Regions from separate parts of the Homo sapiens genome. Here regions 1 and 3 are each linked to region 2. The links come from fine-mapping of genetic effects on gene expression. A gene starts in region 2. Each other region holds a variant in brackets. All regions are shown on one strand. Distances are between the middles of the regions. Region 1 has its middle 39 kb from the start of RTKN2. Region 2 holds the start of ZNF365 (zinc finger protein 365). Region 3 has its middle 62 kb from the start of ZNF365.

Evidence for each region. PIP is the estimated chance that this variant, and not a neighbour inherited with it, causes the effect.
Region 1: its variant is fine-mapped to the expression of ZNF365 in lung (TOPMed, PIP 0.99).
Region 3: its variant is fine-mapped to the expression of ZNF365 in sun-exposed skin (GTEx, PIP above 0.99). The same link has a PIP of 0.9 or more in unexposed skin.

What each region holds. Positions count from the first base shown.
Region 1 is chr10:62,304,278-62,311,282 of GRCh38, reverse strand. No RefSeq gene overlaps it. Among named protein-coding and RNA genes, the nearest start is that of RTKN2, 39 kb to the right of the region's middle. The variant G/A (reference allele first, on the strand shown) is at 3,534.
Region 2 is chr10:62,370,658-62,377,662 of GRCh38, reverse strand. ZNF365 (zinc finger protein 365) reads right to left here and starts at 3,294. Exons shown (of 5, transcript NM_014951.3): 1 at 3,205-3,294; 2 at 727-1,482. The coding sequence starts at 1,469. LOC283045 (a long non-coding RNA gene) reads left to right here and starts at 2,536. Exons shown (of 4, transcript NR_104162.1): 1 at 2,536-2,792.
Region 3 is chr10:62,432,978-62,439,982 of GRCh38, reverse strand. It overlaps a transcript of ZNF365 not described here. Among named protein-coding and RNA genes, the nearest start is that of ZNF365, 62 kb to the right of the region's middle. The variant C/T (reference allele first, on the strand shown) is at 3,869.

The sequences.
Region 1 (7,005 bases), 66 kb after region 2:
TCTTTCTTTCTTATTTTTCTTTCTTTCTCTTTTTTTTTTCAGGGTCTTAGTCTGTCACCCATGCTGGAATGCAATGGTACAATCACAGCTCACTGCAGCCTCAACCTCCCCTGGGTTAGGAGATCCTCCCAACTCAGCCTCCTAAGTAGTTGAGACTATATGCGTGCACCTGGCTAAACTTTGTATTTTCTGTAGAGACAGGGTTTCACCATGTTGACCAAGCTGGCAGATTTCTTTTATGTAGAAACTAACCCTTGTGTTTTTTTAAACAACTTATACTTCGGCATCTTTTAATATCAACCTGGTTTAATGTCTAATGGATATTTAACTGAGTACCTTCATTTTTCTACAAGATAGTTTAATTATTTTTCTCTCCCTTATTTTCTCTTTCCTCCTTTTCTTCACTTCCTACTTAGCTCTTTAGAGATGCAATTATAGCCTTTTACCTCCTCTTCACCAGACACTTCCTACAGGACAAGTTCATCTATGTGCTTAGAACCTCCAGAGCGGATCTCTCACCCACTAGAAGGTTGCCTTGACAAATAACAGTCAATTTATAACCCAAAGTATATCCATGAGAGTTTTTAGCCACCTTTACAACCTATTTCTGCCTATGAAGATGCTAACATTACTGCCCAGTAGATAAGTCACCAAAGTAAGTATGCAGACCCCGCACCTGCTTACTTCCACCTCGGTGCAGGTCTCCCCCTTTAAAAGCACCCACATTCTCTCCAGAAGCAAAGTAATACCCTTAAGGCAGGAATCCTGTACTTCTTCCCATAAGTTATCTTTGCAATACAAAGTCACTTTCTTTGTATTAGCTCTTGCTTTTGTTAATTGGACTCTGCAAGTGGTGAACATTTTGCATTACAGATGCAATCGTGGACAGGAATTTGTTCATTCGTTCAACAGATTATTATTGCACATCCAGGCTCCAGACATTATGCTAAGCATTCAGTATTCTGGTGCCAGGTGCTGGAATAATAAAAATAAAAATAGTAATTATTGTTACTATTATGGATACTGTGTTAGCTTCCTTTTCCACTTGCCCCTCCAAATCCAATCTCCACACACCCCATTTTGTGCCCCTAGGAGGCTGACCTATATGGATACCACGAGTGGGCTTCCTTACCCTTTAGCTCCAGTTGGATGTGGTCAGTGAAGAGAACCAGTGGGAGCTAAAAGGAGAGAGGAGGAAGAGGTTGGAGTGTTTATTCCCCCAGCTCTTGTATTAGTCCATTTTCATGCTGCCGATAAAGACATGTCTGCGACTGCCTAATTTATAAAGAAAAAGAGGTTTAACGGATTCACAGTTCCACGTGGCTGGGGAGGCCTCACAATCATGGCAGAAGGCTAAAGGCACTTCTTACATGGCAGCAGCAAGAGAGAATGAGAACCAAGCAAAAGGGGTTTCCCCTAATAAAACCATTAGATCTCATGAGACTTACAAGAACAGTATGGGAGAAACTACCACGTGATTCAATTATCTCCTACTGGGTCCCTCCCACTGGGAGCTACCTGTGGGAATTATGGGAGCTACAGCTCAAGAGGAGATCTGGATGGGGATACAACCACACCATATCAGCTCCCCACTGCAGGGTTGCTGTAAACTGGCTTTGTCTGGCTTCCAGTCAGGCAGCTCGCTTCACACTATTCTCTGTCTCCAGGTTCTCACAACTGCCCCTTTTCTTCCGTCTGTGGGCCTCAGGTAGTCATTGTGGCCAGCTGTACTGAGCTTGAGTTTTCACTATATTCTATCCATGTCTTTTTTATAAAAAGTCCCTTTTCAAAACACTCTTAAATTAATTCATTGCAATGTGCCATCTGTTTCTTTCTGGGAACTGAAGAACTTCTTATGAAGTGTTTCTTTTTTGGCAGATACTGCTAGGTATACCATTTCATCAAATCTTTACAATCCTGTCTATAGTTTGCCTAGTAAGGCTGAAAAATAGAGAGGCTGAGTGAATCATAACCAAGGTGTTGACTAGGTTCTTTTATTTTCCTAAACTGGACACATATAGAGATAGGCTGGACCTTATACAAAACAATACAAGCAGGATTTATCATGGTGTACCCTTCCATCTTGCTCTCCATCCCAGCTTTTCTCTCTGTGTCTCTTGCTTGCAATATCCTGTTGCTACCCCTTGGAGTTCAAGGATCCCTGTTGTGGTGTCTCTGGTCTGTCATCCCAGCAGTGCTCCTTGCTGTGGTTATCTTCCCTGTGCTACAAGCTCTCAGAACACTGTCCTCCCTTCTCTTCAGTGATGCCAAGTTACCCAGATAATAATACTGAGCTCTGCAGCACTTGCTGATAATTATTCATTGTTACCTCTCCAAGGGTAGCAAGAACTCTAATTGACCAGTTACCTTAATTTAAACAAAGGACTTAACCTGTACTGGTAGTTTTAGAGACTGCTGTGGTGACTAAAGAGACATTTTGGTGGTTATATCGTCATTGACTGCAGACCCACTTGGTATAAGGTGGTCTTGTGCAAGACACAAGAAAAATAATTCATATTTAGTTCTACGAAAAATTCTATGGCAATTCTCCATCAAAGTATTCTGATTTGATTCCCAATATTGTTTTCCCTAATGTATCTTTTAAAATTCTTAGTTATATATTCCACACAAGGAGAAGAATTCTCCAGGAGATATGTGGAATTAGTAGAAGTAAAAAAAAAAATGACTTTCGGTGGTGGAACGAGACTCCTTGATACCGTTCATCTGTTTAGGAAAAGTCCAGCCAAGTCCATTTTATCGGTATCAAAGACAACATATAACTTAGCCTCCTAAACACTTTTAAATTATCTTTCCACATAATAGCACATTTTTTTAAAAGAGTAAGCTGTGTCCAAAAGTGTGTTCAATATATTTCTCCAGACAACAAACATTCTAGAATTTTAACTTATTTGTTTCTGGTATAACTGGAGGCAAGAACAAAAATTCAAATGATTCTAGTTGCATAACAAAGTCTACATACCAGGAACTGTAAGAGTCATTCCCAAAAGCAGCTTTAAACAATGCTTGAGTGAGTTAGCACTTTCTTACTAGAAAAGCCTTGTTTATATTGAAGGATACTGATGGCAAATAATTCTGCCAAAAACATTCTATAGCACAGGTGAAAGTCTTGCCTGAAGGATAGCACTCAAGAGACCCCTGGCATTTGGTTCAGCATGGTACATTTAATCATAATATAAAATTTGCAAGAAAGTGTGGACCCTTGCAATATTCTCTTCCTATGACAGTGGAGAGAATTCTATTACTCTTATCAATTTTTCTTGACTTACGCAGTAAGAGGCAGATTCTAAAGATTATAATAACTTTGATAGTTTTAAAACATGGCTGCAAATTCTGTGACATTCTTCCCATTGAGAGGTGTGGTCTCCATTCCTCCCTCTTGAACCTTGTCAAGCTTGTGAAATCTTAGGCCAGTAGAGTATGGCAGAAGGAATGCTAAGTGATTTCCAGAGCTGGGGCATAAAGGGCCATACAGCTTCTGCCCCATTTGCTGGAAAATTATTCTTGGAGACTTC[G/A]GCCTGAGTCTGTCATGCTGGAAAGAACTGGGGTAGGCACTCCTGTTGCCAGTCTCGACTGAGTCCAGGCTTCCAGTCATCCATCCATCCCTAATGATAGGGACAAGAGGCACGGAAATTCTGGGCAGAAGAGGATGGGTCCCCAGCGAGGGCCCTACCCTCAAGCCTGGAACCACAGCCCAAGGTAAGAACATACATCCCTGTTTTCCCACTCAAATGTTGACATTTCCAAAACCACCCATGGCTCACCCCACCCCTCATTGTGTGTCCATAAAAATCCTAGGCTCTGCCAGCAGAGAGAGAAGAGGAAAAACAGTTGGACATCAGAGACTATGTTTGAACGTTGGAGAGAAGCATTTGACTTCAGAGGGACAGCTTGACGGGGTAGCTTCAGAGAGGAGTCCAACCTAGACAACTGGACTCCAGGGGAAGATCACCTTCCTGCTCCATCACCTATTCAGCTCCCCTTCCCACTGAGAGCCACTTTCACCAGCAATAAAATCCCCCACCTTTACCATCTTCAACTCACTTATGTGAGCTAATTCCTCCTGAATGCTAGACAAGAACTTGGGTGCCAAGAGGGTGCATGCAAAAGGTGTCACACTGACCCTACACTGAGCTGCTAACACATAAGCCGTCTGCAGACAGCAATGGTAAAGGATTGCTGACTGTAACACTTCTTTTTGGGCTTAAGGGGGAGTGCCCCCCACTAGATGCTGCTGCAGGCCCCGCATGGAGTTGTGCTCCTGCTGGTGCCCAGAAGCAGTTGCCCCGGCTCCTGCACCCACATGCTCCTTCCCGCGAGGGGTTGAGCACAGTAGGTTCCAGTGAGTGAAGTTTGCCCCTGCTGTTGCTGAAGCAGCTAGCTAGCTCCAGTGCCGGCACTCTAGTTCCTGCCCGCGAAGCAGTCAGGGTAAATTTCCTGTTTCACTGCCAAGAATACAGACATGTGAGTGAAACTCACGTGGACAATCCTAACCAGCCCATTTTCCAGCTGAATACCTTCAAGCAAACAGAAAATTCCTCTAAGGAAACGCTTTGGAAATCCTGACCCACACAATCTTGAGGTGCTATTTCAACCACAAAAGTTTTAGGAAATTTGCTTTCTAGCAATAATCAGAACAATTACTTCCTAAGTTATATAGTCATTGATCAGTACACCACTATTAGGCAGGGTAGTTCTATCTGACAGACAAGAAATGACTTACAAAGTCACGGAGTAATGTAGGGTGTTTTAGTCCATTTTGTGCTGCTATAGCAGAATATCTGAGACTGAGTAATTCATAAAGAACAGAAACTTACTATCTCATATTTCTGGATACTGGGAAGTCCAAGAGGAAGATACCAGCAATTGGTCTGGTGAGGACTTTCTTGCTACATCTTCATATGGCAGAAGACAAAAGGCAAGAGAGAGTGAACCCACTCGTGAAGCCTTTTTAATAACAGTATTAATCCATTCATGAGGATGCAGCCCTCATAACGTAAACACTTCCTGGTAACCATTACCTCCTAACACTGCTGCATTGGAGATTAAGTTTCCAATATATAAATTTTGGGAACATATTCCAACCATAGCTCAGGGGTAGAGCCTGATTCCAACTATCATTGAGAACTGTGTGTTTTTTCTTCACTATGCCATCTTTTCTTGTTGGTCATAAAATTTTCAAACAAGCATCTTAAAATAACTAAGCCCATTGGCTTTCAAACTGTGTTCTCTGGAGCTTGAGAGTTCAAAAAAAGGTCACTGAAGACTCATGCTAGGAGAGGAAGCAGTGCAGGATAGTCAACAAAGAGTAGGAGGGTTTCTGATCTTGTTTGAAACCAAATGTGTTCTCCTTCTAATAGTTGTATAAAGATGCTGATATTCCACGTAAGATATCTTGTTAATATAATGCCCCCTTACTAAAACAAAAACAAACAGATAAAAATATTTTTGAAGTAGTATTCCAGTCCAAGAGACTCATTTTAAAATTTAAAAGCCATGACCTGATAAACAAAGCATCTTGTCCAGTGTTATATTGTTGACCAATTCGGTCTTATGATTAATATTCCAGTGATTTTGCCATGTTTATACAATCTGCCTTTGTCATGCATATTAGCAAGACTCAGGACTGATAGGAGTCATTTTATCCAACCAATATTTATTGAACACCATGCCAGTCTCCACACCAGGTGCAGTATTGAGCATGATGGTCATGGTCATCGATGTGATTGGGGTTATAACTTGATAGGTAATAATTTTCAACCAATAATCCATTTGTTTCCTTTCTGTAAGTAGCTTCAGCTTCTGTCCCCATCTTATTCCTAACAGGAACTATCAACAGAGAAAACATCAAAAGTCATATGATTTAGTCTCTTGCAGAGCACAGGAGTTAAGTTGTGATAGAGGAATAGGAAGGAACTAGGGAACAATAACAATCCAGAAGCAGGAACAATTAGGTACCAAATAAGTGGAGTAGTACTGTTTCTATAAGAGCACCAGTAACATAGACTTTTGAAATTGCTACAAAAAAGCCAAAATGATTTTTAAAGAAGTTTACTCACTTCTTCATGTTATTTTATTTTGTTTAAGAATATTGCTTTAATTATTCCATGAATTTTTTTCAAGCACTACAGTTTTCAAGAAGCATTTTATATAACATTCTATTTAAAGATCAAACTAAACACAAGTAGGAATGTGAGAAAGGTTTTGAAAAATAAGCCACTTGAGAGAGTATATTGACGTGGGTAATTTCTGAGGTTCTTTAGGTATAGAGATAATTGATCAAAATAGGTCATTAATTCAGTTACAAAAATTCAGTCCCTTCAGACAAATCACTTGTAGAACTTGTGAACCAAAGGACTCTAATGATTGAATGAACACAGTGGAGTCTTTATTTTTAAAGGTGCAAGAGGGATATTTTAAACTTTCTATTTTCACTTTAATTTAAATATATAAAGGCTCTGCTTCAACTCTTGAGAAATTCTAGCTGTAGGAACAACCTTTCCAAATCATTTTCTTCTTTAAAAAATTCTAGTTTTGGCAAAAGCATCTTCAGTTTATCCACAAACCATTTACTTTTCATAATCCATAATTTAAACCAGAAAGTGCTTTTCTTTTTTAATAGAGAAAGCTAATTTATCTGACATTGTCATCATGGAATAGTGTGTTGCAAACAAGCTAGAATTCTAGAAAGTGCGATTTTTTTTTTTTTTTTTTTTTTTTTTTTTTTTTTTTTTTTTTTTTTTGTGATGGAGTCTTGCTCTGTCTCCCAGGCTGGAGTGCAGTGGCGCGATCTCAGGTCACTGCAAGCTCCGCCTCTGGGGTTCACCCATTCTCCTGCCTCAGCCTTCCGAGTAGCTGGGACTACAGGCACCTGTCACCACGCCCGGCTAATTTTTTGTATTTTTAGTAGAGACGGGGTTTCACCATGTTAGCCAGGATGGTCTCGGTCTCCGGACCACATGATCCGCCCACATCGGCCTCCCAAAG
Region 2 (7,005 bases):
ATTTCTCAAGCAATAGCTTCTATGATCTATAACTTGTGAAAACCAATCTCAACTCTTTGCAAGTGGGCAAAACTTAAATATAACAAAAAAAAATACATCATTTGCCAAAAAGTCAAGTCTCAAACTTAAATCATAGAAGTATAGCAATATCAGAAAGTCTTTCCTCTGGGTGCCCTAATGTCTGCTTCTCCCAAATATAAATTAAATTAAATGGATTCTCAGCTACTAACATTTAATTAACCTGGGCAGATAATACAAAATGGCAAATAAACCAAACTTATTTATACTGGAGGAATGTTTTTGAACTTAAGACAGCATCTTGCATTGACTTTATAATACGGAGACTGTCAAGAATGAACAGCTCACTTAGCTCACCCTTTCTGCCTTCCCATTCAACTCACCCTTGCACGCCATTTGGTGCTAGGAATGGATCCCACCATGGCTAGGCTGTGCTAGTCTTCTCTCTAAAAGCATAGTCTGTGGTTTACAAATTCCCAGTTGAGAAGGAATTAGATATTTGACTTTAATGCTGCTAGGTTGCAGACCGTGCACACAGAGGGTAAATGATATCAAAGCCTTGTTCCTCCTGGTTCAACTATATCAATAAGAAATGCAGTCAAGGCACCTGCAAATAGCAAAAATCAACCTTGCTTAGCATTTGCTTGTAAGGCGATTGGGGTGCTGCTTAAAGCAATGGGGTTAGCATCCCCTGTCAGCAACACTTACTCTTCTTTCCTAAGAAGCTCCTCCTCAGATTCCGTCAGGCGTTGCCTCAGTACAGCTATCATTTCCACGGCCACGTCCACCTGTCTGTTTAAGGCCCGCTCTCGTCTCTGAACTTCCTGCTTTTTCTGAGTCAGCTGCACAAAAGCTGCCCGAACTTCCAACAGTTCCGCAGTTTTCTGGGCCAACTCTTTGGTGAGTTTATCAATTCTCTTCTCAATGGTCCTATCCACAGCCTCAACCATTCGATTGAATTTTTCTCTGACATGTGCCTCGAAAGAAGCTTTGGTGTCTGAGGTGGGCAGTCCAGGACCCGACCGTGTCCCATCCAGCGAGTCTGCATGGAGGTCCATGGCAGTGTAGGTCTGCACATAGGACACAGGCCTCTCTGCCACCACCTCAAATGGCTTCCTGTCCTTGGAATGTTCATGTGAAATGCTGTACAAGTTAACATAGCTCGGTTTCTGCTTTACCACGTTGCCACTGCTCTGCAATTTTCCCGGTTTCAGGAGTTCTGAGGAAGTGACTAGGTCTGTGTCTTTGAGGGATGGAAAGAGACTGCATTTTGTCAAGAGGGTTCTTTCTTCGTAGCTGTGACTGAACTCCAGATGGGCCCTCAAGGATGACAAGCTTCTAAATCTGGTATGGTCTCCACACCTCGGGCAGCGTAATGGCAGGCACACAGCAACATTCTCAAAGGACTCCTGCCAGGGATATCTGCTTTCCTCAAAAGCCTTCTGTTGCATTACTCTAAAAGTCCTGGGAGGGGGGAAATAGGTAGTTTACAAGTCGGCTGAAAAACACACTACTAAAATGATTGCTGCTCATCTCCATGACAGCAGAGGCTTTTTGGTTTCAAGTGACTTTTGCACATAATATTTTATGTTGCACTTAAAACCTACAGCCCATGGGCCAAATCCATCCACATCAATTTCTGCATTATTTACTGCTGCCGTATCAATTTCTGTATTATTTATTGTAAACCACAATGGCAGTGGTGAGTAACTGAGACAGAGACTCTATGCTCCTAAAAGCTAAAATATTTACTACCTTTACAGAAAAAGTTTGCCAACTCCTACCTAGAATCAAAAAGGTGGGTAACATTCCCTCTCCACAGAAGAGAACACTGAAGCAAGGAAGTAAAGCCATTAATCCAAGGTCAGATGGAAAGTGGTAGATCCAGAAGTGGAATTCAAGTTTCCTCCCCTCCTGAATTTGGCACACTAAATGCAAAACCGTGCCCCATTTTAAGGATACAATCCGAGATGCGTGAACACAAGAACATATGAAAACTCACATGAATTGTCAAAATGGGTCCTAAGACAGCAAGCTCAGGACCTATCCTCAAGTACAGGAAAGATTACTCAAGCTATGCACAGTGGCATTAAGCCTGCAATCAGCTGAAAATTTTTCACCCTGAAATTTTTGCCTTTTTTTCCTTCAGGTATTGCTGTGATGACATAAACCAAAGTGCTAATCGTAACAATAACAGACCCCATACGTGAGTTTCACTGAAACCTGGGGACCCAATGTGTCAAATACCATTTGGCATAAGTGGGGCCATGGCCAAGATTTTTATTATAATAGAGTGTTCTGGACGGATTTGTCTTGTCTCAGATGCTATTTTATATGACAACCTCTAGGGATGGTCAGTGTGTGAACCAGGTAGGTATCAGCATACTCTCTTAATAACAGGAAGTTCTGGTTTCCTTGTAGGAATGCATTATCTTCACCCTAGCAACAGATGACTGTTGGCAACCCAATTCTGCAAGCAGTGCATATCTTCTATTCCTCCATGAAAGGTTTCTACTTAAATGTAACAAGCATTGGACCCGAAATGAGGGAGCCCAGCTGGGGTCTTTGGGTGAAAAGTGTCCTCAACCTCTTCAAAAGCAGAGGTGCAAATGGTCCCCAGGCAGCGAGGCAGGCAAGGCTTCTAGGTGAAGCCCCCGGCCCCCAGAGAGGGGAACCTCTTCCTGTGATGGGTACACCGGGATGTTTAACCACTGGTTTTCTGGGAACGAGATGCAAACCCTGGCTCAGCATAGGGCCAAAGACGCTGACAAGAGGTAAGGAAAGGGGAAGTCAGGATTCTAAGGGGGCAATGGGAAAAGGGTGGCATTTTGGATGGGGAAATGGGTAATCACACACTCCAGAGCACGCAGGCTTTTATGGGCCCAGAGGAAACCCAGTCCACTGGGCTGATGAAGAGCCCTAAGTGACTCTGCCAGAGAAGGGCAGGCTGGCAATGACCCTGCCCCGGGGTCCCAGCTCTCCCCGCCCCCTCTCCGCTGCGTGCCAGCCCACGGGTGCCAGAGTGGATTCGTGTGCACATGAGTTCCTGCTGGTGGGGGCCGGGAAGCCGGCTCTCCCAACTCCCCGCCATGCTGCGGGCTCGGGGACCCCCTCCCCAGCCCCGGCCACCCCGGCAGGTCCCCTCCGCCGAGCCGCGGGCGCAGATGGCCGGCGGCCGCCTCTTACCCGACTTGTTGCTGCTGCTGCTGCAGCCGCCGCCTCCGGTGCTGATGCTGCGGGAGCGAAGCGGTTTTCAGCAGAGCCGTAAATCAGACTGAGCCGGGCCGGCTCCCACTCCCCGCCGCACCTCCGCGCCGGGACCGGCGGCGTCCAGGGCGGAGCGAGGCGCGGCTAGCCAGCGGGGGCGGCGCTCGCGGGCACCGTGGGGCACCGCGCCGTGGGTGCGGGGGTTCCGGAACGCCGCGGCCCAGGGCTGCCACCTCCGCGGGGAACACCCTTGCTCTGCCCAGCTGGCGGGAGCATCATCTGCCCCCCCGCCACCCAGCCGGGAGCCCGATCCGACTCAGGATTACACTGACATCACTGCGAGAGATGCTGGGATCATTCCCCGGGGGAGGGAAGGAAAGACGCGTGTCAGCCTCGCAGTCGCGGCGCTTTCTGCAGGCCCTGGCAAGCTTTTTTGCACTAGTTTGGGGGGAGCGGGAGAGTGTGGATGAGGATGCAGCATAGCTGGGCATCTTCTTTGAAAATCTACCCGTTGGAAGGTCCGGGTATTTAATTAGGACCTCTTCATCCCAAGCAGCAGGGCGAGAATGTCCCAAAATAACTAACCCAGAGAGTACACTCCAGCCTTCCTAGCCAAGTGTCCTGAGGCTACGTTAACAGGCAGAACTAAATCTAGTAAAGTGCAGGGATTAATGAACAAACAGTTAAAGCAACAAGATCCCTCACCTACACCCCCATTTCTGAGGCGGACGCCCCTTTCCCTGGAGAAAAAATTTGTCCTCCTAAAGAGGGGATGTCCTGAAGAGAAGACGGCAAATCATTCCTTCTGAAGGACTCTGATGTCTCAGCTTGCTGGGCTTTTGCTTTTTTTTTTTTTTTTTTTTTTTTTTAACCTGTTTTGGTTTACCCCTACTGTAACTCCTGAAATGTGAAACCTAGATAAAAGTTACTGCTGGGTTTTCTTGTTCAAAGAAGAGAAGAGATTCTGTTCATCTGTAGACAGTTAATGCATCCTCTTGACTTCTCAGGGTGTCTTTTCTCAAGGCTTGCTGTTACTCATTTCAACACCCGATTTTATTTTAACGGTAAAGAGCTCAACAGTTATCTTAGTTGAAATTTTGTTTTGTTTTTGACAAATGAAAACAAATGAATTGCTTTGTTTTTTCACAAATGAATTATCACATCAAATGCAATGAAGATCCCAAGCTCTGGCATCAGACTTGATTCAAATCCTGGTTCTAGGGCCTGGGTCAAGTAACTAGACTTTTCTGTTCCTTCAATTCCTCATCTATGAAATGAAGATAATCAAGACCTACCTCTTAATATAGCGGTGGATCGAATGTGCTATGATGATGGAGGTAAAAACCCTGCCTGACAGGGACACACACTGATAAAGTCAGCTGTTATCGTTGTTGCTACTTCATTTATAATTATTATTAATTCCATAAAAAAGGGGCCTACACACATTTAAAAAGCAGGAAGGAGAAGAGGAATTAATATGTACTAACTTCTACGTAAATGGAGATAGGCTATTGTGCTGGGGTGTGTTTGCTTTGAAAATATTATATCTCATTGAAGTTACTTTTTGACTCGCTCTCAAGACTATTCCAAGAATCAATTTATTTAGTACAAAATCTTAAAGTCTGAAAGATACACTCATTGGAGTGCCAAGTTATCTCCGTCATCTTGTGAGGTGCCTGCAGGTTAACCTCTTACACCCACTGCCTTCATGGCAAAACATAACAAAAGCATGCTCTGGTCCTCCCTTCCCCCCCGCCCCTTTTTTTTTTTTTTTTTTTTTTTTGAGACGGAGTCTCACTCTGTCTCCCAGGCTGTAGTGGCGCGATATCAGCTCACTGCAACCTCTGCCTCTTGGGTTCAAGCGATTCTCCTGCCTCAGCCTCCCTAGTAGCTGGGATTACAGGTCCCTGCCACCACCCGGCCAATTTTTGTATTTTCAGTAGAGACGGGGTTTTGCCGTGTTGGCCAGGCTGGTCTTGAACTCCTGACCTCAGGTGATCTACCGGCCTCGGCCTCCCAAAGTGCTGGGATCACAGGCGTGAGCTACCGCGCCCAGCCAGCTCCTCCCATTTCTTAGACAGCTGCTACTTCTTTTTTGGTCCTAAGTTCCTCCCCTGTTAAATGAGAGGATGGAGATTTTCAAAGTCCTTTTCTCACCCTAAAAATATAAAATATTATCAAATAATTATGGAGAGGTTATTCTGTGCAGGGCCTAAAGCTGAGTATTGTGGGAAATTCAACTTGGTCAACAGGCATTTAGGACCTTAAGTGGTTCTCAAAGTGTCACTTGTGTATACCACCAATTACCTCATTTAATCTTTGAACACCTGTGAGGTAGGGAGGACCTTGTACACTCAGTTCTAGCCACCTTGGCATCCCTTTACTTAAGAGCCCTGCTTTTTCCCGTCTCTAGGGCCTCTTTATCTGGTAATGCCTACTCATCCCTCAGAGCTCATCCCAAGTATGCCCTCTCTGAGGAGGTCTTCCCTGACACTCCTGGACAAGGTTAGTGCGTACTAGGAAAATTTATTATGACAGGATTTGTCACAATAATTCTATGTGCTGGGTTATGGATGTAGTTGTCTGTTTAATATTTATGTCCACTGTTAAGTTGTAAGCTATGTGAGTCAGGGTCCTTGTCTGTCTTACTCTCCAGTATATTCCCAGGACTTAGCACAGTGCTGATCAAAGTGCTCAAAAAATATTTGTTAAAAGAATGAATGCTGAAGAAATAAATCCCCTTTCTACATAGGAGGAAACAGGCCCAAAGAAGTTAAGTAACTTTCTCAAGATCACAAACCTAGAACACATTACAGCCAGGATGGCAAACCCTGGGCTTTTAACCACTGTACTCATTGGCTTTCCAGTTTTTGATGAAGAAAATAAAGTTCTAGGAAGTAAAGTGACTTGCCTAAAGTCATATAGGTAATAAAGAATAAAATCAGGGTTAGAGTTCATGTCTTCAAACACTGATGTTTTTCTATGCCACATTATGCTGTTTTACTCTGCCCTCCAGGCACTTACAACTAGTGGAATGAGAACAAGGCATATATATATGATAGATATATGAGATATATATCATATATATGATAGATATATGAGATATATATCATATATATGATAGATATGAGATATATATCATATATATGATATATATATGAGATATATGATATATATATCATATACATGATATATATGATATATATATCATATACGTGATATATATGATATATATATGATATATATATCATATATATATCATGTATATGATATATGATATATATATGATATATATGATATATATGATATATATGTGATATATCATATATATGATATATATATGATATATATGATATATATGATATATATGATATATATGTGATATATCATATAGATGATATATAATATATGTGATATATATGATATATATGATATATATGTGATATATATGATATATATGATATATATCACATATGATATATATCATATGTGATATATATGATATATATCACATGATATATATCACATATGTGATATATATGATATATATCACATGATATATATCACATATGTGATATATATGATATATATATCATGTGATGTATATGATGTATATGGTATATGTGATGTATATGATGTATATGGTATATGTGATGTATATGATGTATATGGTATATATGATATATATGATGTATATGGTATATATGATATATATGGTGTATATGATATATATGATATATATGGTATATATATGATATATATGATATATATGGTATATAT
Region 3 (7,005 bases), 62 kb before region 2:
CAGGACAAAGGAAAAACATGCAGATTGCACATGTTTATTTAGCCACCACTCTGTCTCAAGCACTGGGCCAGGTTCTAAGAAGTATCAAAATTAAAAGTGAGATGATATTTTTGAGGGATTTTAATATTTAGATTGTGTCAGTTAGGATATGTTTGGCTCTCAGTAACAGTACACCAAATTATTAGTGGCATAAACAATAAAGACATTAAATTAAGTAATAGAAGATATAAGAAGCTGGAGGATGGTCATTTCAGAGCTGATTTACCAGCTCCACATTGTCAAGGTCACTGGGTTGACATCTTCAAGAGTCCCTTGGGTTTCCCATTTTGTTCACAAGATAATTTTGCAGATCCAGACATTAAATCCTTTATAACCTCATGCAAAGTCAGGGCAAAGGAAGAGCCACAGCTATTAGAGGGCTTGCACATATGCTTTCCCATCTTTGTTATAAAGAATATGTCTTTCTCAGAAGATATCAGTGTATTTCCCCTATGCTTCATTGGCTAAACCGAGCTACACATCCCATCCCTAGCTGCAAGAGAATCTGGGAAAGGGAGGCATTGTTAGGTAGTGAGTCAACATTTTTTTTTTTTTTTGCTAGAGTTGAAATAATCATAAAATTCTAAGTAAAGATTATTTAATCAATTGCTCAATCACGTGAGTGCTTCTGGAATAAACACAATGAAGGAATACACATGGCATGAGGAAAATGTAAAGAGAGAGAGGAAGACAGAGACCGAGAAGAGAAAGAATAGACCCATTATTAGTTGAAAGATGAGAAGAATTTAAATTGGTAAAGATGAAGGAGATTTCAAGTAAGGGAGAAAAACTAAGAAAGTGGGAAATGGAATTAAAATATCTATACTGACCAGAAACCATAAGTGTAGTATCAACAACAGCAAGGTGATAGTCTTACCGATATTCATACCATTAGAATAATTTTATTTTCCATGCTAAATGACCTTAAATGAGCACTATTTTCTATTTGAAATGTGTTTGTGTGTGTATTTCTCAAGAAGCACTCTAGCTAATTAGACAAAATGCTTGCAAGTTAGTGAGGCTGTAATGCAGAAGGAATAGAGACCAGGCAAATTCTTTCTGCTTGATGCCTACCTTAATAAAGCTTTCTAAGTACTGTGAGAAGCATACTGAGGAAGGATACTGGTGCTAGATACCATTCATCAGCTATTGCAAGCTTCAAAGGCACCGAAATGCTGAGTTATGAGGATTTTGCCAGAATCTATTCAAGTGGAAAGCACCCGGAGTAAGGCACAGTGTGCCTCTGAATCTTCTGCTTACATAAGAGAATAGCAAAGGCCTTAGATAAGGGAGTGACTTGATCTAATGTTATATCTCTTCCTTAATGCCAGTTATTCTGTATCTGCCCTTCATGTTTTTTTCCTTTATCTATCTTGTTAACACTCAAAATTACTTTATGTATGTGTTTGTTTACCTGGTTTTTGTAGTCTTTCCCCTTTCAATAAAAACTCTATGTGGCTGGGCATGGTAGCTCATTCCTGTAATCCCAGCATTTTGGGAGGCCAACGCGGGTGTATCACTTGAGGCCAGGAGTTTGAGACCAGCCTGGGCAATGTGGCGAAACCTCATCTCTACTAAAAATACAAAAATTAGCCTGGCATGGTTGCTGCGCCTGTAATCCCAGCTACCAGGGAGGCTGAGGCACGAGAATCGCTTGAGCCTGGGAGGCGGAGGTTGCAGTGAGCTGAGATAGAGCCATTGCACTCCAGCCTGGGTGATGGAGTGAGACTCTGTCTCAAAAAAAAAAAAACAAAAACAAAAACAAGAAAATACTGTATGAAAACAGATATAATATTCCTGTTCTCCATTGTATCTTCAGTCCTTGTCACAGGATCTGTGGACTCTCAATATTTATGAAATGAATGCATGAGTGAATAAATGCTCCTATCTGTTAACTAATTTCCCATACACAGTTACTTGAAATCTACAAAGCTGTCCAGCACCAGCTGTTATTCCAACAGGCCCATGCTATGCATCACGACAGAAGAATGATGTTGGATGTAGAGCGTGTTCAGCAAATAAAACTCATCAAACCAAATCTCACCAGGCGACCAATAAAAGAAAGATTAATACCTACATAATCAAGCCTGTGGTTTGTCTTACTTTAAAGTATGTGGATAGATTATCAGCTGTCACCCCCTAGTGGTAGAGAATATAATTATCAGGGCTGCTTGTTTCTGGTCAAAGGAAGGAAAAGAAGCCAGGAGATTTACAGAAAAGTGCATTTGCTACCAATCTCACAACCTTTAAATTGCATATACTATTCACACACACACGTACGTATATGTGTGAATTTAGAAGGAAAAAGCTTTATGAGTTACACCTTACTCTGATGATCTGGCTGTTTGTTAACTGCCTGGAAAACATAACATGAGATGTAAATAACTTGCTAAAAACTCGCTTTAAACTTTGTCTGCTTCCGTCATTACAATTCCTTATGAAATCCCTTCCTGAGAAAGAATTAAAATAGCTATTTATTCTCAAAGCCTCTTAGAGAAGAATATTGATTTCCTATTTAAAATTTGACATTTACTCTATGACGTGCGTAGAATTTCCAGAAAGCAAGGAAACCATGACGAAGTTACCCTAAAGCTTGATATAGATCAACTTTTTTAGATAAATTTCAGAAAACTACATTTTTTAAAGACAAAAAAAGTTAAATTCAGCCAAACTGCTACTTACAAATCATTAGTCGCAAAACAGCCAGTTGCTTAACTGAATTCAACCACATACATTTCCCTGCCTCCACCCAATCCTATTTTCCAAAACACCCACAGACACATATATTTGTATCTATGGGTATAGATTGTGGAAGACTTTAAAATAAACCATCCAAAATGATCTCTGATTCTGAAATCACTGGAAACAGAGAATACATTTCTCATACATACATTTAAATGTGGTATTTGACTCTCCCTCTTAGCTAGAGAGAGTTTATGTGGAATTTATAAGAAAGTTTATAGTCAGAAGTCCATCTGCTTATAGGTCTTGTTTGAAATGCTTGGTGTGTGTGTGTGCTAGCCACATTTTTTGGAGCACTCGTTGTTTACGGTGCATTGAGCTAGGCATTTAACCCTCCTAACCAACTTATGATATAAACAGTACTATCATAACCATCTTACAGATGAGCCTGCTCAGGCATATTAAATTCCTGGCACAATGTTACCAGCTACAGGGCTAGATCTTACTAGATCCCAATTGGTTGTCCTTCCATCATTAGCTTTTTCAGTTAATTGGCTCTGCTCAACAAGAAGCAGGAACTTAGTAAGTGCAATGATGTTGGTCATGAAGGGTGCTGGCAAGATTCAAAAGGCTTCAGGAAATATTCATTTCTTAGTGAATAAAAATTTCTTGGTGAAAATCTTCCTGCCTTAATGAAATAATGAACCTAATTAACAACTAAGGTCTTGTAAAGCATCAAAATTATCCTTTTTAGCATTATATTTTTATGTGTTATTACAAATCTGGATATGTTCTATAATTTTATTGTGTAACTAAATCTCAATTGTTATTTATTTTTTTGCCAGTGGCTTTTTTTTCTCCTAAATATAAAGAATGATTCCCTGTACCCTCTTTTAACTTCCCCAAAATAATCACTTAGTTTAATTAAGGGTTCTAGTTACTTTAGTACCAGTTAACCAACTTTTTACCCTATTTAATTTATATGGCTGTTGGAACTTTCCTATTTGTCTAGAAGAAAATTCCCATGGCCTGGAAAATTGCTTGCTTGCCTGGTGGGATTGCCAGTTACACGCTAATTATAGTATCTTTTATAATACATTAGATGGTGGTGGCTCCTTTATATATATATAAGTGAAACTCACAAAGA[C/T]GTTCAGACCAGTGCATCAGTAAGGCTGAATAAGAAAGAAAAGTAACAGTCTTAAAGTATTACGGTATTACAAAAAAAACCAAATACCCATGAAGTAAAAATTTTGAAGAGTCTCAGGTGTGAAATCCTACATTCCAAGCATTAAGTTAAAAGGACAAAATACCACAGAACTGTCAGAATGGGTAGCCTTCTTTTGCACCAATGCTGAAATATCATTTTTTATACAACTAGTCTTTTGCTAGATATTTCAGATAATGACATCAAATTTGAGTAGGCTGTTTATCCACTTTGCCTATGGGGAAGAGACTGGTTTTTAAAAGAAATGAGTTTGTTTTCTTGTTATGGAAGAATTTAGGCATTGCCAGAAGTCTGGATGGAAATGTAGCTGTAAATATCCATGGTAAAAATAATATGCATGGTAGCTAAAAGAATGGATGAGAATTGGGATTGATTTTTCATTTCTGATGATCAAGCCATTATAGATCTCCCTTGATTGGGAACAAGCCATTTTTCCATAGTCTTTGTCAGATGATATTAAAAGTCTATGGTATCTTGCTATTATTGGCCGAGTGTTATCCTTTAATCTCCTGAAAATGGGCTACTAACATTCTGCAGCATTTAGGGTGGAGAGCCTTGCACTATTCCAGATCTCTAACCTTTTTCATCACTTAAACCAGAGCTAGTGTTGAATACAAAAGGACTCAGATAAATATATCTCAGGCATGTGTGAGGCAAAAAATGAAACCTTCTTCTTGGGAGTATTATTCAGAAGGTTAAGTTTATCAGAAAAAAATTTACCTCCAAACGCTAGACCTGGGTGCTGGTCTTGCCATTTCCTTCGTCAGTCCTTTATCCTCCCTGGACCTCAATTATTTCACCCACCAATGCAGAGACACATGCTCATCTGTGAGTGAAGAAGATCATGTCTAAATAGTCCTTCCCAAATCTCAGCAAGTCCTATAAACTAAGATCTTTCTTAGTCTGTCATTAGCCAGTCATTCTTTAAGTTGGTTTCTCTATTTAGTTTCCAAAATACCCCTTTCCACCCTCTGAAATGGTCTTATTTATTTGTCAGATTTTATTGTCTATCTCTGCTTCTGGAATTCAAGCTCCATGCATTCAGGAACCCATCTTGTTCATTGCTGTATCCAGAGGGTCTGAAACAGTGTCTGATGCATGGGAGGATTCAAGAAGTAATGTTGAAGACATGAATAAATAAGTTTCCTCAATAAATAATACTGAATACTAAAAGAAGAAATGTATGATTGATGAGTTTTCACTCTTCTGAATGAGGTTATTCTAATGTCCCTTGTTAGCAGATGACTTTGTGAGAAGAGATTAAAACAGCTTAAGGAGGCTGCCCAGAGCTTGCACTCTGCAATGACAACACTAATTTTGTTCTGATTTCCAGTATACTTCCTTGCTTAGGGGAGAAATGTCCTATTTCACTGTCCTTCTGAGGCAGGCTTTCCTACTTCAAGTGGAGCCGGTTCCGTGCAGTCTTCCAAGTAGGTAAAGTCATTGACTGCTTTCAGTGCTTTCCCTGCTAGTCTCAGTCCCACCGACATCTAATTATATTAATATGCCAGAGAGAAAATGCAAGAAGGCTCTTCATTCTAGGATGAATGAATTGTTCAGGCCCTTCCTAAGAGGAAGTATCAATTTAGAGCAGGGACAACACACAGTCCTTGAGCACCTGAGGTTAAGTATACCCACAAACGTTTGTAAGCATTGTGATAAAGTTGCACATTAGCCCCACCAAAACCTCTCCACCCATCAGTTGATTTGTTTTTCATTTGATTGTTGTTTCTCCAATTTACAGGGAGAAAAAAAAAATAAGGTTTGCTGTGTTGAAGCACCACTGAGCAATCTTAGACCCGAAGCATATCTTACTGATTATCTAATTCAATGTTTCCCAAACTTGTCTGAACAAAAAAATCACCCAAGGTGCTGGTTAAAATATCAATTCTCAGGCCTCACCCTGCTGATTCGGATTCCGACAGGTTTGGGTGAGGCCAAGTGCATTCAGATTTTTTTAACACGTGCCCCAGGTGATCCTTATGTTCAAGCAGGTTTAGGAAACACTAACACACACATTTTCATTTACTAGCAGAAGAAACTAAGTCTGAGAAAGCCCTGAAAGTACATCTGGGTCACACAGCTCACTAAGAATCTTCAGTTCCTGGACCTGGATTCTTTCCCTTGTACCAGCCTGCCTCCACTAAATCTCCATCCCACTAAAAAACTATAAAAATACACACAAGGAAACTAAGCACCCCCAAAACGCCTTAACTTCCTCTGTATTTCCAAATGAAAATGTTAGCTGACTTATTTCAATATTTCCTTGTTGTGAAAACATTTTTTTTAACTCCAATCATAATGTGTGTTTGGCCTGGATTGGGGTCCAGGATTTAAAGGCAAGCTCTACCGATGCCATCTCAGGATGCTCTCAACCTGACTTGGAGCTCTGTGGAGTTGACCTTCTGCTTCTTAAATCCAAATCTGGATCGTCATCAAGTATCACTTGGTTTATCTGGTGAGTAAAGAATCCAGCGAGGTAGGTGTTCAGAGCCACTTTTTCATCATCAGGAACTAAAAGCAATTACTAATCTGTTTTCACTAATGCAGTCCATCTGTGCATGAGCAATTTGTGTGGTTTTCCTAAGAAGGACATCATATTCTCTGTTTTTTTAAATGCTTAATACTTGCAATCAGAGGGACAGAAATATCCAGCCAGCCCCAATTCTTATAAAACAGAGCTGAAAGCAGGTGATTCAGCTGACTTTAGATGACTCAGCCCGCCTCGATGGCCAAAGTTGGTGAGTCATTTGTCTACTGTCTGAGAGAATTCATTTCAGGAACCCAAATTTCAGGGGCCTCCAAAACTCATTAAACTGTTTAGTAACTCATTACTTCTATTGGAGTTATTGTAGCCTTTCCTTTACCTCAGTTTTTATTCCTGTTCAAACAAATCCAAATCAAACTTCATATCAAGCAGTAGGTTCTACAAGGAACAGTCCATGATCTAGGATGAATTTGAAGTTCCTTTTGGTTTGATTTCCCTGATAATCTGAGTTTTTAGGGAAAACCCAAAGTGTGGAGTGGTTTTGCTGTGGACAAATCCTTAAGTTTGTTAA